2 linked regions of the Homo sapiens genome follow. The protein of the gene in region 1 purifies or fractionates together with the protein of each later gene. This does not show direct contact. Each region holds a gene or a part of one and is shown on either strand. Other genes may lie near its edges. The genes, in order: MCEMP1 and JOSD2.

What was found.
Region 2: the proteins of MCEMP1 (region 1) and JOSD2 purify together in Homo sapiens (affinity purification with mass spectrometry; 3 studies listed by BioGRID and IntAct, with this or other methods). This does not show direct contact.

Annotation. Positions count from the first base shown.
Region 1 is NC_000019.10:7,672,863-7,680,272, reverse strand, and holds MCEMP1 (mast cell-expressed membrane protein 1), read right to left. Parts: upstream 3,184-7,410; 5' UTR 3,153-3,183; coding exon 3,098-3,152; intron 2,637-3,097; coding exon 2,547-2,636; intron 2,170-2,546; coding exon 2,032-2,169; intron 1,924-2,031; coding exon 1,873-1,923; intron 1,783-1,872; coding exon 1,669-1,782; intron 1,350-1,668; coding exon 1,290-1,349; intron 1,176-1,289; coding exon 1,159-1,175; 3' UTR 444-1,158; downstream 1-443.
Region 2 is NC_000019.10:50,508,092-50,516,214, forward strand, and holds the start of JOSD2 (josephin-2), read right to left. Parts: upstream 3,101-8,123; 5' UTR 3,026-3,100; exon of another isoform or gene 2,984-3,025; intron 2,358-2,983; 5' UTR 2,341-2,357; coding exon 2,195-2,340; intron 1-2,194. Other genes in the region: ASPDH (aspartate dehydrogenase domain-containing protein), read right to left, coding at 3,639-3,682, 4,045-4,199, 4,269-4,489, 4,570-4,719, 4,836-4,920, 6,400-7,010. UniProt on the Homo sapiens protein: Cleaves 'Lys-63'-linked poly-ubiquitin chains, and with lesser efficiency 'Lys-48'-linked poly-ubiquitin chains (in vitro). May act as a deubiquitinating enzyme.

The sequences.
Region 1 (7,410 bases):
TGATCGTACCACTGCCCTCCAGCCTGGGTGATAGAGCGAGACCCTGTCTCAAAAAAACAAAAACAAACAACAACAACAACAAATCAAGTGCATGCATGAGCGGTGGACATAGTACCTTAGGGTCATGTACACTCATGGATACATGCTCAATGGCATAGATACACTCACGGGCACAATTACACACGTGGGTACACGCTTAGGGCTTGTATATATCCGTGGTCCCAGGTACACTCAGGGAGATGTTGTATGCTCAGGGGCACCCACTCTGGGACACAGGGAAGACACAGGGAATGAGTTACTCATTCACAGATGCACAGGTACTCACGCAGGGCACTCAGTCTCGCCCACCCTGGTGCCCCGGGGTCATTGTCACGTGCAGACTCTCCCTCTCCCCAGGTCCCAAAACCCCTCCCCTTGCCCCAGTAACAGGTCCCATAGCGACGCTGTTTTCCCTTGACTTTATTTATCTTCATAAGTCACAAAATGTGAGTGCAGAGATAAATGTCTGTGTGCATGTGCCCTGAGCACACAGGGTGGCATAACTCGGCACACTCATAATGACACAGCCGTTCACCCAGCCACAGATAGTGACAGGGCACACATGGCGACACCCACATGTACGGAGATAAATCTCCCCCACCATGACATGGGTAGACAGAAAACACGCCGCAGTATACTCTAGTATGTTTACACAAACAGGGAGACAGGCCCGTGCAATGCATGTCACCAACACCCACACTCAGAGTGACATCTGCTGGAGGTGCTCAGACACAGCCACCCACCGTGACATGCCGAGACTCACATATGTCACATGACACAGGCATGCATGCCACATTCACTGTGACTCTCAGTCCTATTCATTCATCACCTTTCTGGGAGATACACTGAAATGTCCACCCTTTGCAAAATGCACACACACGCGCACGCACACACGCACATACACGAACACACGCGCACACACGCACACACACGCACGCAGGTGTACACACACACGAGCAACTCCGAGACACTCATTCACCATGACTCGAGGTTTTTCTATACGTGGGACGAGGGGCAGGTTCACACTAGGCTGGGGGGGGGGGGTCATTTCCCGTCTTCGTTGGCAGGTGCAGCCCCATCTTCCAAGTTGTGGCTTTGGCTGCCACAATGTCCTCTCATTTATTGAGGTGAGGACTCTGGGGATGGGGAGAGACCCACAGTGAGGCAGATCCCGCCCCTGGGAGAGGAGCTGGGGCTAAATCTGAAGCCCCACCCACCCTCCTCCACCTCCTGTCGGGGCGCCAACTTACGTGGCATTTTCTGCAGCACCTCCAAGATTTTCTGTACCTTTGTGTCAATGTTTTTTATGCCTAGGGGGCGGGGAGGGTTGGGTGGGAACAGATAAGTCAAGCTGCGGTGGAGCCTCAAACAAAGCCCCCACCTTCCTTGGAAGCACCCCCCCTGCCCCACACCCACCCTGGGGTACAGCAGAGCCCATGGATTTGGGGTTCCCAGGAGCCTTTCAATACCCACAGAGCAACCCAGATGGTAACACCCATCGCCCCTCCACAACTTGAGCTTTGGGAGGGTAGGACCCCGGCTTTCTCCTCCCCTGAATCCCCTGCCCCCAGCTCAGCTCCGGGCATTGGTGACAAATAACCCCCATAGAAGGCGAGACTACACAGGCACCTGCTAATGTCGTCTCTAATCTATCAATCTTGCTCCTGACCATGGTGATGCTCTGCTGAACGGAATCCCAGCCTCTCTTCTGTCTCTCTTCGCATGCTTGTACGGAGTTTGAGACTGAGGGCATGAAACAGGGGTGTCTGTGCATCCATCCCTCTCCAGACCCCCACCATGACCCCACGGGTCTCCCTCAGACCCTCCGCTCACCATTCCAAAGCTCCCTTTTAAAGCCCAGCAGCTCCTTGGACATCTCAGCATCTGTTCAGGAGGGGCAGGAAAATCCTTGAAGCACCCAGGGAGAGAGAGAGAGAAGGACAAGGGAGAAAGTCTAGGCCCCCCAGCACCCTCCTCCCAAGAAGTACTCACTCTTCACCATGATGAAGGCTGACAGGATGATGCAGAGGACAAAGGCCAGGGCCAGGAGGATGTACAGGCTCAGGATGGCTCTGTACAACCAGCAGGGGACCTGGGTGGAGTCTGAGGGCGGCCTGCACTGGGCTGGGACTGGAGCAAAGAGGCAGCAAAGTGACCTTGAGGGGCCAGCACCACCACTCAAACCATCCTCACTGTCTCTAACACCATGGACACCTCGCTCCTCTCAAAACCATCAGCAGCTGTGGTCATGCAGCTTGTCATCATCGTCAACAACACTGCCACCACCAGCCACCCTCAGCGATCTAACACCGTCACCATCACAGACCCCCTCTCCAGCATTCCCCAACATTGTCATCATCAACAGACCTCATTAGCACGTCAACAGCTGTCACCTCTTCCTTCCCCATCGCTTCCTCCCTTCCACGCAGCCCCGGGGGCCCTGCAGTTGCCCGCCCACCTGCCCCTTCCCAAGGTGATGGGATGTGAGCAGGTGGGTGTCTGCTCACCTTGGCTCGTGGGTCGTGAATGACCACCCTTTGCATGGTCCTGATTTTTGAAGGCCAAGGTGATATTCTCATAGTCTGGGTCATGGGCACCTGGGAGGGGTTGGAGATCTGCTCAGAGCTCTGTGGTGTGGAGAGTGGATCCGGGATCTTGTTTTACCCAACCCTTTGCACTCAATAAATTGTAGGGGGTGAAAGATAAGGAGTGAGAAGCTAAAATCTGCTTTTTGGTTAAGTGGAGCGGGTGTGTGAGAGTTTGAGTGATCACACCACACACACATCCACACACACATCCACACATCTTGGAGGGGAAGGAGCCCCCGGCCCCCACCTTTGACCCCTTACCTCTCCCATCTGAACTCTCCTTCTTTTTTTATTTTTATTTTTTACAGACAGAGTCTCCCTATGTTGCCCAGGCCAGTCTCCACCTCCAGGGCTCACGCAATCCTCCCGCCTCAGCCTCCCAAAGTGCTAGGATTACAGACATGAGCAAAAGCCCCCGGCCCCCCAATCTCTCCTTCTTAACCCCTCCCTTCCACCTCGAGTTCCCTAACCTTGATTCTTGGCTGAGACCCCCTGTTTCTTGTCCCTGAAGGCTGGTGCTTGCATCTTGACTTCCTGGTGCTTGTAGATTTCCTCCACTTCCATGGTCCCCAGCCCGCAAATTTGTCCATACACGTCCCCGCCCACCGGAAGGTGTGGGCAGATGAGGAAATCTGGAGGTGGGGGGAAGAAAGAGGGGGAGCAGCCTCCTCTTTTCAGGGATCCACGACTCTCGCACCCTGGGGCACCCTCATTCCTGCCCCGATCAAGAGGCTCTTGGGAGCCAAGAGGTCTCAGGAAGGACCAAGAAGAAAAACCTCTAGACCGGGAGATGGAATTCGACACTCGGAAATGTTACAGGAAGCTGTGGTCTCTGTGTGTGTCTGTGTCTACCTGGATGGACCTCACCCTCCTACCTCCTCTCCATTTCAAAAGAGAAGCTGTGACACCTCAGTGTCCCAACTTTTCGCGTAAGAGCAACCAGGCTTGGAGACAGGACCCCTGGGTCCCCCCACACCTTCCTCCCTCCAGCCTCAGCTCCACCCCTCAGCTCCACCCCCAAGAAGTTCTTCTACTTCTACAAGTCCCCGTGGAGGAAAAGCACAGATGTGAGGCAACGGGAACTAACCACTGGAACGCCACACCCACATCTGGGACTGAGGACAGACCCACATCCTTCCCTCCCTCCCCAAATCCCCTGCTTTTATACAACCCTGGAGGAGGCTGGGTGCGGTGGCTCACGCCTGTAATCCCAGCACTCTGGGAGGCTGAGGTGGGTGGATCATCTGAGGTCAGGAGTTTGAAACCAGCCTGGCTAACATGGTGAAACCCCGTCTCTACTAAAAATACAAAAATTAGCTGGGCGTGGTGGCGAGCGCCTGTAATCCTAGCTACTCAGGAGGCTGAGGCAGGAGAATCGCTTAAACCTGGGAGGCGGAGGCTGCAGTGAGCGGAGATCACACCATTGCACTCCAGAATGGGTGACAAGAGGGAAACTCTGTCTCAAAAAAGAACCCTGGAGGAACAGTTTCCTCTGCACCTGGAAACTCCAGGTTTCTCATTCTCATCCATCCATCTGCTTATCTACCCAGATACTCTCTCTCACACATGTACACACACAGGTCTGCACACGGACACACATCACAAACTCATTTGCATACTATTTGCATTGTGACACTCAGAAAAATAGACACAAGCATGCGTTCACATGCCCGCACTCTGTCTAGAAGGTGTCTTAGTTCACTTTGTGTTTATCTGATCTTGAAAACTGGGGTTACAAAAGGCACAAAGTAGCTGGGTATGGTGGCTCGCTCTGTAGTCCCAGCTACCCAGGAGGCTGAGGTAGGAGGATCATTTGAGGCCAGGAGTTTGAGACCAGCGTGAGCAACATAGCAAGACCCTGTCTCTTTAAATGTTTTTTAATAATTTTTTTTTGAGACAGGGTTTCACTCTGTTGCCCAGGCCGGGGTGCAGCAGCGTGATCATGGCTCACTGCAGCTTTGACCTCCCTGGCTCAAGTAATCCTTCGTCCTCGGCTTCCCGAGTAGCTGAAATTACAGGTGGGCACGACTTCACCTGGCTAATTTTTCTCCTTTTTTGAGATGGAGTTTTGTGCTTGTCACCCAGGCTGGAGTGCAATGACGCTATCTCAGCTCACTGCAACCTCCGCATCCCAGGTTCAAGTCATTCTCCTGCCTCAGCCTCCCAAGTAGCTGGGATTACAGGCATGCACCACCACCCCCGGCTAATTTTGTATTTTTAGTAGAGACGGGGTTTCCCCATGTTGGTCAGGCTGGTCTCGAACTCCTGACTTCACGTGATCTACCCGCCTTGGCCTCCCAAAGTGCTGGGATTACAAGCATCAGCCACCGTGGCCCAGTCTAATTTTTCTTATTTTTTGTAGAGATGAGGGTCTCAATATGCCGTCCAGGCTGGTCTTGATCTCCTGGGTTCAACTGATCCTCCAGCCTTGGTCTCCCAAAGTGCTGGGATTACAGGCATACATTTTTATTTTTATTTTTTTCTGGCCAGGTGTGGTGGCTCACGCCTGTAATCACAGCACTTTGGGAGTCTGAGGCGGGCGGATCACCTGAGGTCAGGAGTTAGAGACACCAGCCTGACCAATATGATAAAACCCTGTCTCTACTAAAAATGCAAAAATTAACTGGGCGTGGTGGCAGGCGCCTGTAATCTCAGCCACTCGGGAGGCTGAGACAGGAGAATCACTTGAACCCGGGAGGTGGAGGTTGCAGTGAGCCGAGATCGCGCCATTGCACTCCAGCCTGGGCAACAAGAGCAAAACTCCGTCAAAAAAAAAAAAAAAAAAAGAAAAAAGAAGAAAGAAGAAAGAAGGAAGGAAGGAAGAAGAAAAGAAGAAAAAACAAGTATAAGACTGTCTTATGTGCAGAAAGTGATGATGTTTTGGTTAAAAATATGTGGTTAAATTTCAGACAACTTGAATGTTGAGAAATGAGCGTCGAGATCTGGTGAGGATAAAGTTCTGTTTCCTAAAATATTGCCAAATCCTGTGTCTCCAAGAAAGATCAATTTGATAATGACTTCATGCCAGCTGCTCCATTTGGTCTTAGAAAGAAGTCAGTTACTGAGCTATAGGACCGCCTTCTAATGGAGCAGACGGACCAATTGGATGTGGGCTCTGCCTTGATGGACAGGCACAGGGGGTGGAGCCACAGCGTTGCACATTTCCCGGGCTTGGGTGGGGCTGAGACGCGGCTCCAGGCTCTGGACTTCCTTTGAGAAAAAGGTCACGCTAAACCAGAGGCCCACAAGCAATCATGTCATGTGGGAAACATCTGCAAAGCTGCCTGACCAGCACCCGTCCCTTTCATAGGGTAACATTCTCAATTTTCTTTTAAGAAAGAAAATGTGTGCTAGATCCAGCAAACCATAAGCTAGGGATTGGTTTACAGTGGACAAATGATCCAGACCCAGCCAACCAGAGTCTAAGATTGGGCAGAGAGGCGGGCATTTGAGCAAGATCCAGCCAATGAAACGCTGGTCTGGGATTTTTATTGGTTTAACCACGGGGGAAAAAGCATTCTCTTTTTTTTCCAGCCCTCACTAGGGCTGCCACAATGGGAGGATGTAATGGGAGCTGTGACAGGGAAGAATTTACTTGAGAGCAAAGGCAGTGCTGAGAAAATCAGACCCGAGAGGAAGTCTGGGTCCTGGAGACATCATTTGAGACCCTGGTTCCAAGCCATACCTGAACCTGTTGTTCTAACCCTGGGCTTGTCAGTTACACAAACAAGAAACTTCCTTTTAGTTTTGCCCAAGCTAGTTTGAAGTGGGGTCTGTTGTACTTGCAAGCAGAAGAATCTTGCCTTGGCTGGTCTCTGTGGCCCACGCCTGTAATCCCAGCACTTTGGAAGGCCGAGGCAGGTGAATCACTTAAGGTCAGGAATTTGAGACCAGCCTGGCCAAAATGGCGAAATCCCCGTGTCTACTAAAAATACAAAAATTAGCCAGGAGTGGTGGTGGGCGCCTGCAATCCCAACTACTCAGGAGGCTGAAGCAGGAGAATCACTTGAACCTGGAGGTGGAGGTTGCAGTGAGCTGAGATCGTGCCACTGCACTCCAGCCTGGACAACAGAGTGAGACTCCATCTCAAAAAGGAAGAAGAAGAAGGAGGAGGAGGAGAAGGATGAGGAGGAGGAAGGAGGGAGGGAGGAGGGAGGAGGGAGGAGGATATCTTGCCTACCACAGGGGATCTAGGCATTAGCTATTGAGGAAATTGAGGCTCTAATAGGGGGTTTGCCTGTCCACATCACCTGGGCAGATATGACCTCCAAGTCTGCACTCTGGGGCAGGAGAATGTCTATGTTGGAATTGAGGAACCTGAAGAGAGCCCTCTTAGGTTTCAGATACAGGACTATTGGATGGGGGTGGAGACAAATAGTTCTGGGGACAATGGAGCATCCCCGCCCCCAACACACACACACAGCAGTAAGGGGCAGGGACACACACAAGGCACTAGACTCACCCTCTCTGGCCCTGGCCATGCTTCTAACTCAGTGGTCCTGCCCTACCCCCATGACCACTGTGGAGTCAGGAGAGAGGGTCTGGGAAGGGAATCCCTGGGCTGGAGTCTGGGTGGGGTCCCTGGCACCAGAAGTGGTTGTAATCTCTGCTCATGGCCACCAGCATCAGACAGGGGGCTGGGACCATCACAGGGGGTGGGTGGCAGTGGGAGGAGAGTCCAAAACATCCTGCAAACCAGAACCTCACTCTATCATCTGTTGTCCAGGTGTGACATTTGAGTCTGGGATCCCTTTCAAGACTAGGTGCTAGGAATTCTGAAGTC
Region 2 (8,123 bases), about 43 Mb from region 1:
CAGCCTCCAGCCTCCCTCCAGTCCATTCCCACACGGCCCTGGCCCTCTCCTGCTCTCAGCTCTCCCATGGCTCCCCAATGCCTTGGACAAAGTCCCTGTCCCTCCGCCAGTCCCTTCCTCTGTCCTTCAAGGCCCACCTCAGATGTCACGTCCTCTGAGAGGAGCCTCCTGACCTCCAGGCTGGATCGGGGCCCTGTCTGGGCTCCCCCAGTGAACTGAGCCACCTCAACGATGACAGCTGCCCGCATCACCCTGATTTAACACTGCTTGCTTCTCCCACGGGGTTGCCCTCACCCCTCCCCTGCTCACAGCCCACTCTGCTGCCTCATTTCCCCCAGGACAGAGTCCCACAAGGCCCTGCGTGGTCTGGCTCTGGTGGCCTCACCTCAGAGCCTCAGCACCCTCCTTCCTGGTCCCCTGTCCCCAGCCACATCCCCGGTGCCCACCGCCTCCCGCCCCACCCCCGCCAACCTTTCCTCCAGCTCTTCCCCTGCCTAGGAAGGCTCTTCCGCCTGTCACCACTTGTCTCTGGGCCCTGCCTCTGAACAGCTGCACCTCTGTTCCCTATCTGGACCCTGGGCAGGCAGGACATGGGAGGAAAACGCTCGTGTGTGTGTGTGTGTGTGTGTGTGTGTGTGTGTGTGTGTGTTTCCCTCACCACCCTTAGGCTGGCACTTGTGTCTGAGTCATCTCAGGGTCTCCAGCATGGCTTTTGTATGAAAGAGCTGATGGGTCCTTGTTGCGAATGATAGAGGAGATGACTAAATACCATAATAATCAGTCTGAGGGGCTGGGACTCTTAAGATGTCCGAGAGCCGGAGGAGGCTTGGAGCAAGAGGCAGGGGAGGCAGGGCCATCTCCAGGTGTAGAAAGACTCTCTAGGATCAAGTGGGGACTGAAGGCAGGGACAGACTGGAGGCCATGGGCAGGCTGGGCAGGAGAGGGTCAGGCCTGAGCTGGGGCCAGGGACATGGGGACAGAGAGGAGGGAGTGAGAGATGGTAAAGGAGTGATTTTTTTTTTTTTTTTTTTTGAGACAGTCTTGCTCTGTTGCCCGGCTCACTGAAACCTCTGTCTCCCAGCTTCAAGCAATTCTCCCACCTTAGCCTCCAGAGTAGCTGGGACTACAGACATGTGCCACCACGCCCAGCTAATTTTATTTTTTATTTATTTTTATTTTTTAGTAGAGACGGGGTTTCGCCCTGTTGGCCAGGCTGGTCTGGAATTCCTGACCTCAAGTGATCCACCCGCCTCAGCCTCCCAAAGTGTTGGGATTACAGGTGTGAGCCACTGCGCCCGGCCAAAGAGTGATGTTGGACATTGTGAATAGTGAAGAGGAACATTCCATGCTGGCAGAGAAGGAAGCCATGCCGGGCAGAAAGAAGTACCTGGAAGCCCAGAGGCCGCACAGAAGGGCTCACGGGAGTGGAGAGTCTGGTTTGAGGGGGGCCGTGAGGGCTGAAGATGCGGAGGCAGGCTCGGCCTCCGCTATGAGGAGGGCCCTGAGTAGGGCGGGGGCGTGTTTAGGATGGACTGGAGAGCTGTGACAGGGCCCAGATAAGAGATGCCTGAAGCTGGGTGAGCCTGTAATCCCAGCTACTGGGGAGGCTGAGGTGGGAGGATCACTTAAGCTCAGGAGTTCAAGACCAGCCAGACCTTGTCTCTAAAGAAAGAACCACTGGGCCGGGTGCAGTGGCTCACGCCTGTAATCCTAGCACTTTGGGAGGCCGAGGCGGGTGGATCACGAGGTCAGGAGATTGAGACCATCCCGGCTAACATGGTGAAACCCCGTCTCTACTAAAAATACAAAAAATTAGCCGGGCGTGGTGGCGGGTGCCTGTAGTCCCAGCTACTCGGGAGGCTGAGGCAGGAGAATGGCATGAACCCGGGAGGCCGAGCTCGCAGTGAGCGAGATCGCGCAACTGCACTCCAGCCTGGGCAACAGAGTGAGACTCAGTCTCAAAAAAAAAAAAAAAAGAAAGAACCACTGGATTGAGGTCTGGCTGGGGCTGAGGCCACAGGGACAGACAGGCACAGGAGGCAACATCTCCCCAGAGTCCCAGCGTCTAGCTTAGGCAAGTGAGCGCGGAGCAGAAGAAAGCCCCCAAGGCTCAGCGCCTGCCTGGCGGCGAGACCCAGGTGGGTCACTCCGCCAGAGCTCTGCTGCTCCAGGGGCTGGGGTGGGTGACGGTCACCTCTTGCAGATCTCATCGGCAGCCTCCTGGCTAAAGAGCTGCTGCTGCAGAACGTTGTTGAGGGCGTGGACAGCACACAGCTCCAGGCGCTGCCGTTCGTGGTACACGGTGGGTGGGCTCGGCTGTGCTCCCGGGGCCTGGGACATGCCGTCCTCGGCTCCTGCTGGGGGTTGGGAGGGGGAGAAGGTCCTCAGGGGCCCGGGATCTAGAGGTCCAGCCTCCCAGCAGGCCTTTGGGGCATCGCCATTGATTGAGCTGGGACTCGGAGCAGCCCAGGAAGACACTGGGCCCCTGACCCCGCTCCCTGGCAGTCTCCTGGCAGCACACGTCCCTCCATCCCTTATTCCTATTCCTACGAAAAACGCTGTCTCTTCTGCTCCCCTAGCAACAGAAAACCACCCTCACCAGGTCTCTAAGTAAAAGGGTCCCTATCATGGTCACCTAGCAACAGAGGAACCTGCCTCCCCGTCCCTAGGTAACCAGGGCGCTCTGTGGTTACCTAGCAACAAAGCCCCCTCCCCACCGCACTAGGTAACAAAGTCTGTCCTCCGAGCACCTAGCAATAGAGAATCCTCCTCCCCTGTCTCTAGGTGATAGGGTCCCCTCTGGTCTCCTAGCAACAGAAGACTCCCCTTCCCCGGTCATGTAGCAGCGAGGCTCTCTGCTCTTGTCACCTGGCAACGGGGCCCCCTCCCCAGTCACTAAGCAACAGGAGTTCCTCTTCCTATCACCCAGCAACCAGGCCCCCTCCCCGGACACCAAGGAATGGAGCCCTTCGCCGACCCGCACCCCAGCCACGGCGCTCGCCCTTTGCCTGGCAACGCCCCTCACCCCGCCTGCCTCTCCGCTCCACCGAGCCAGGGGTTTCCGCATCCCCTTCCTGGGCGGCGGCTCTGGGCTCCGAGTGCGGGGCGGGCAACACCGCGCTGACTGGGCAGGCGGGACGGACTACAGCTCCCGGTGATCCCCGCGCGCCGGACTACGACTCCCGTGGGGCCCCGCGGGACTCCTGCTCCACACGGAACGCCCGGGCCGCGTGGCCCTGAAGTCGGCCGTCGGGCCTAGGAAATGCCGCACTACAACTTCCGTCGGGCTCCGCGGCAGGTCCCGGAAGTGCGCCTCAGAGGCCCTTCTTTCGCATACGGCCGCGCCCACTACTGCTCAGAGATTCTAGGAAACTTAGTAGGTAGGCTCTCGCGATAGCTTCCTGGCGCCGCGCTCTCATGGGTGCTCGCCCCCGGCGATGGCGTCATGCGCGGTGCGCAGACGCAGCGTGACGTCACACAAGGGAAAGGGATCAGAGACGCCAGGCGGTGCGGGGGGAGGCAGCGGTGATCTTTACTGAGTCAGAAGGGAGACCCTGGGGAAGTGGGGCAGGGCAGGGGTGGGATGGTGGTGGTGAGAGGCCAGGCAGATGATCTTGTCTCGGGAGGGAGGAGGCTTCTCAGCAGAGATGGATCCCCGGCCTGGAGGGGAGCTGGCAGCAGGCTGCGGGGAGAGGGGAATGAGCGAATGAGACAGAGGAGAGATGAGGAGACAGACGCCTGGGGGAGGCAGTGGTGGGAGGAGGGGACAGGGCAGGGGGGCGGTGGAGGAAGACCCGGAGAGAGCGGGACAGAGCCCTGGGGGTGGACAGAGACAGAGAGAGTCTCGATCAGAGGCGGGCACAAATGGAGACATCTACAGTGCCAGGATTCAAAGTCATGGAGAGAGGTTAAGGAAATAAAGGTCAGAAAGAAAGAAAGGTCAACAAATACAGAACCAGAACTGCAGAACTAGTGAGAGCCCGGGACCCCCAAGCTCTGCAGAACACAGGAGCCCAGGGCCGGGGGAGAGGGGCCTGGCCGCACCCAGGAGGCTCTGCCAGAAGGCCGTGACGGTGGCGGAGCCGGTGACCGCGCCTGGCTCGGCAGGGTTCTCTCTGCGGGTGTGCACAGCAAAGCTTCGGCCCGTGGGGCCCCGGGGTCCGCTCAGCTCTACATCCACCACGTGCATGTCCGTGAGGCTGGGACAAGAGGGGCAGTCAGTCTGGAGAGCCTGGACTCAGCCCAACACCCTGCTTAGCTCTGCTCACCTGGTATCAGCCACGAGCACCCCAATCACCCCATCGAAGCCCAGGCTGGGGGCAGCCAGGGCAGCCGCCGCCATGGTGTTGGAATTTCGCGGGGCAAAGGGGCAGAGCCCACGGACAGGGCCTTCGTAGAGCACAGTGCAAGGCCCAGGGCTGTGGGCTGCAGCCAGGGGTCCCTCAAGCCGGAAGCCATCGGGGTGTGTGGCCATGGTGACACGAAGGCTCTGGAAGCAAGAGCCCGGGTTAGGGGGAGTGGGGTCTTTGCAGGCCTCCCCTGGTTCCTGGGGAGCCCAGCAGGCCTCACCCGGAGGCCCCCAGCTGCATCCAATCTCCTGATGTCCTCAGCGCCCCACAGGGCCCCTCGGGCCACAAACACGGCGTGGTCCCAGTGCTGTGAGGCCTCCAAGAGCTGCCGCTCTGTGGTCTGGTCACTTAGAGCTGAGGGGGACCCCACCTGGGGTGGATGAAGGAGGGGAGGGTTGAGGTCAGGGAAGGATATCCACTTCAGGGTGGGGTGAGACCAAGACAGAAGGGGCAGGGCTCTGCGTAAATGGTTGGGGTGGGGCTTACCAGGAGATTGGCATGGCGCAGGATTTGTGCCCCAGATTCATGGATTATTTTGGGATGGGCCACTTCCACAACCAGATCAGGGCGCCTGGGAGAGGGGAAAGAGGGCGGAGGGTCTTGGAGAGGTATTAGGCCTCTTCTCCCCAAGGTTCCCTCCGAGTCTACTGAGGGCTGCCCTTCTTCTCCCTGACCTGGGAGGCGAAATGAGATGAATGGGTTCGTCCTGTTTCACATTTGCTTGAACCAAGGCCCAGAGAGGGTCAGGGAACCCCTGAGATCACACAGTGGCTAAGAGAGCCAGGACAGGAGCTTCAGGGAGCTCCACTCTCCCATGGCAAGGTCACTGACCTTTCCCCAAGGGCAGCAAGGTTCTGGAGCTGCAGGGAAGGGGGCACGCTCCCTGCCATTCGTCCTGGGTCACGATTCCAGACAAAAACAAGTTCTAGGCCAAGTTCTGGTCCCTGAGCCAAGAGGCGGGAGACGAGGGACTGTCCTGGGGAGAGGGAAAGGAGAGGGCTAGAGATCCAGAGAGAGGGGGACAGAGACCCAGAGAGAGAGGAGGTGGGGACAGAGACCCAGAGAGAGAGGAGGTGGGGACAGACTCAGATTGCGGGGTAGGGAGACAGAGATGGGGGCAGGGCAGAGACACAGTGGGGTGGACAGAGGCCCAGAGAGAAGGGAGACAGAGACGGAGAGGACAGAGACCTGGGGTGGGGGTGCAGTGGGCAGACCCAGAGACACAGCCAGGGGCAGATAGAGAGAGAAAAAAGTGTTTGTGGAGGGCAGAGAGTCTTGGGAGCTTTAGGAAGGGGTTTGGGGAAGGAGGCCAAGGATGGTCAGGGACTCACCGAGGCGGCCATAGCCCACCACGCCCACCCTCCACGGGCCCCTGTCGGCCATGGCCCTGAGTGCGGTGTCTGGGGCCTGGCTCCCTGGGCTGCTCGCTGCCCGCTGCACAAGGCCTGGGCAGCCGCTGCTCTTTGGACATCTGACCCTTGAGCCTCTGGGCTCAGTCTTCCCCCTTCCCCGCAGGCCCAGCGTGGGGGCGTGGGCCTGCGGGAGTGGAGGCGGGAGAACCCTTCCCTGTGCTCTGTCCACTTTCCCGGGTCCAGCACAGTGAGCATGGTGACCGGGGGTTCTGGGAACCCTGCGTGCCCCCCTTTCCCCTGCAGCACACCCTCTTTCTCCCTGCTGATGTGGAAAGTTTCCTCTGCAGTCCCCTGCCCCCTCTCTGGCCGGCCAGGTTGTCATGGAAACTGCATCTTGCTTTGGGTTGGGAGAAGAGATGGTGACAGGGACTCTGGGCTCTGTCTGTCCCCTCGTGCTCACCTCTCCTCCTTGTCCTCAGGCGGCTAAGGTCTGAGGGAGGCTTCAGCCTGGCCGTGGCCCTAGCCCTCCCAGAGGCAGCGGGAGCCCTGGTTGTGGCTTCTCCTCAATGTGCCCTTGCCTCAGCGGGTCCAACCTCCCTAGCCCCGCTGCGCAGCACGGGTCCCCTTCCCACAGCCTCCGCCCCTGTCCACAGCCTCCCTCCGCTCTGATCATCCTTCAGTTCACCTTGACTTGCTACCTTTCACTCTGTCCCCCATCGTGCCACCAGCTGCCTCCAGTGTGACGTTCTCGCTCCCACGTCCGTCCCTCCCGTTCCCCAGCTCGCGTCAGCCCAGGAGAAGCCTTCGAGGCCTGGAGAGGCCAAGTGCCCCCAACATGAGCCCCAGCCTCTGTGCCTTGAGGGTGCCTGGCATCGGAAATGGCGCAGGCTGCGGCAGCGCAGGCTCCCTGCCCCCAGCCACCACCTGGTACCCGCTGCAGTGTTTCCATGGCAACCAGGATTGGCGCTGGAAGGAGGCTGGAGAGAAAGAGAGCGTGAACGGGAGCATGGGGTGGGGGGGGCGGGCACTGGGTGGCGAGAGCCCCAAGTTGACGGGAGGAGAGAGGAGACAGACGCGGGCAGACAGAGAGGGGCCAAGACCCCGACGTGGCACCCAAAGGCTGCCGCTGCTGATAAGGGAGGAATTGGCTTCCAGAGCCAGGAGCCCCCGGTGTGGGAGAGATGAGATGCCTGGGTGTAGACAGAGCCAGGAAGGGGGCAGGGGCCAGGCACCTCACGGAAGTGGGGGGCCTCCCGCCATCTCTACCTTCTGACTCCTGCTGGGGCCTGAGTGTCCCCATAGTGCCCATAGCTGCCGTGTACGGGGTACAGCCTGGGCCACTACGAGGGGAGAAGGGGGCTGGGCGCAGGCCTGTGTGTCCTCAGGGCTGTGTCCCCGAAGCCACCTCAGCGTGGGAAAGCACTGGAAGGCCCTGCATGGCTCCGTCCCTCCCTCTGCCTCCCCCAGCAGCGTGAGATGGCAGCCCTGGCCAGCCCCAGCCCTCCAGGGCCTGCAACTCGGGCACCTTGACCCCCCAAGAGACATCACCACCCCCTCCCCCAACCCACCCAACAGCTGCCCACTGTGCCAGCAACCCCCCAGCCAGGCCCGCTCAGGGTTTGCTCCCTGCCCTCCCAGGGCTCTGCTCCTGCCCTTCTGAGTGGCACTGTGGTGCCCCTGCCGCCCCAGGCCCACCCGATCCGGCCCTCCAGCCTCCCACTGAACCGGCCAGAAATACAGCTGCTGTGCCCCAGAGGCCGCAGGCCCAGCCTCCCGCTTGGCCTCCCTCCCCTTCGGCACCCCGTCCTCTGGAGCAGCCTTGAGGGGGTCTGCAGTGGAGAGACACACTCTGGATTGGGCCCTGTTGTGGGTTGAATTGTCACCCAGAAAGGGAAGCGCAGAAGTCCTGACCTCCAGGGCCTCAGAATGGGACCTTATTTGGGAATTGGGTTTTTGCCAAGGATGGAGCTGAGGTTATACTGGAGGTGGAGGCTCCTGGTCCAGTCTGACCTCTGTCCTTGTAAGAGGGGAGGTTAGGCAGGCTGCAGTGGCCCACACCTATAGTCCCGACACTTTGGGAGGCTGAGGCAGGTGGATCACTTGAGGTCAGAAGTTCGAGACCAGCCTGGCCAACATGGTGAAACCCCGTCTCTACTAAAAATACAAAAATTAGCTGGGTGTGGTGGTAGTCGCGTGTAATCCTAGCTACTCAGGGGGCTGAGGGAGGAGATTCGCTTGAACCTGGGAGGCAGAGGCTTCAGTGAGCTGAAATTGTGCCACTGCACTCCAGCCTGGACAACAGAGCAAGACTCTGTCTCAAAAACAAAGAAACAAACAAAGAAAACGGTCAGGCGCGGTGGCTCATGCCTGTAATCCGAGCACTTTGAGAGGCTGAGGTGAGTGGATCACCTGAGGTTAGGAG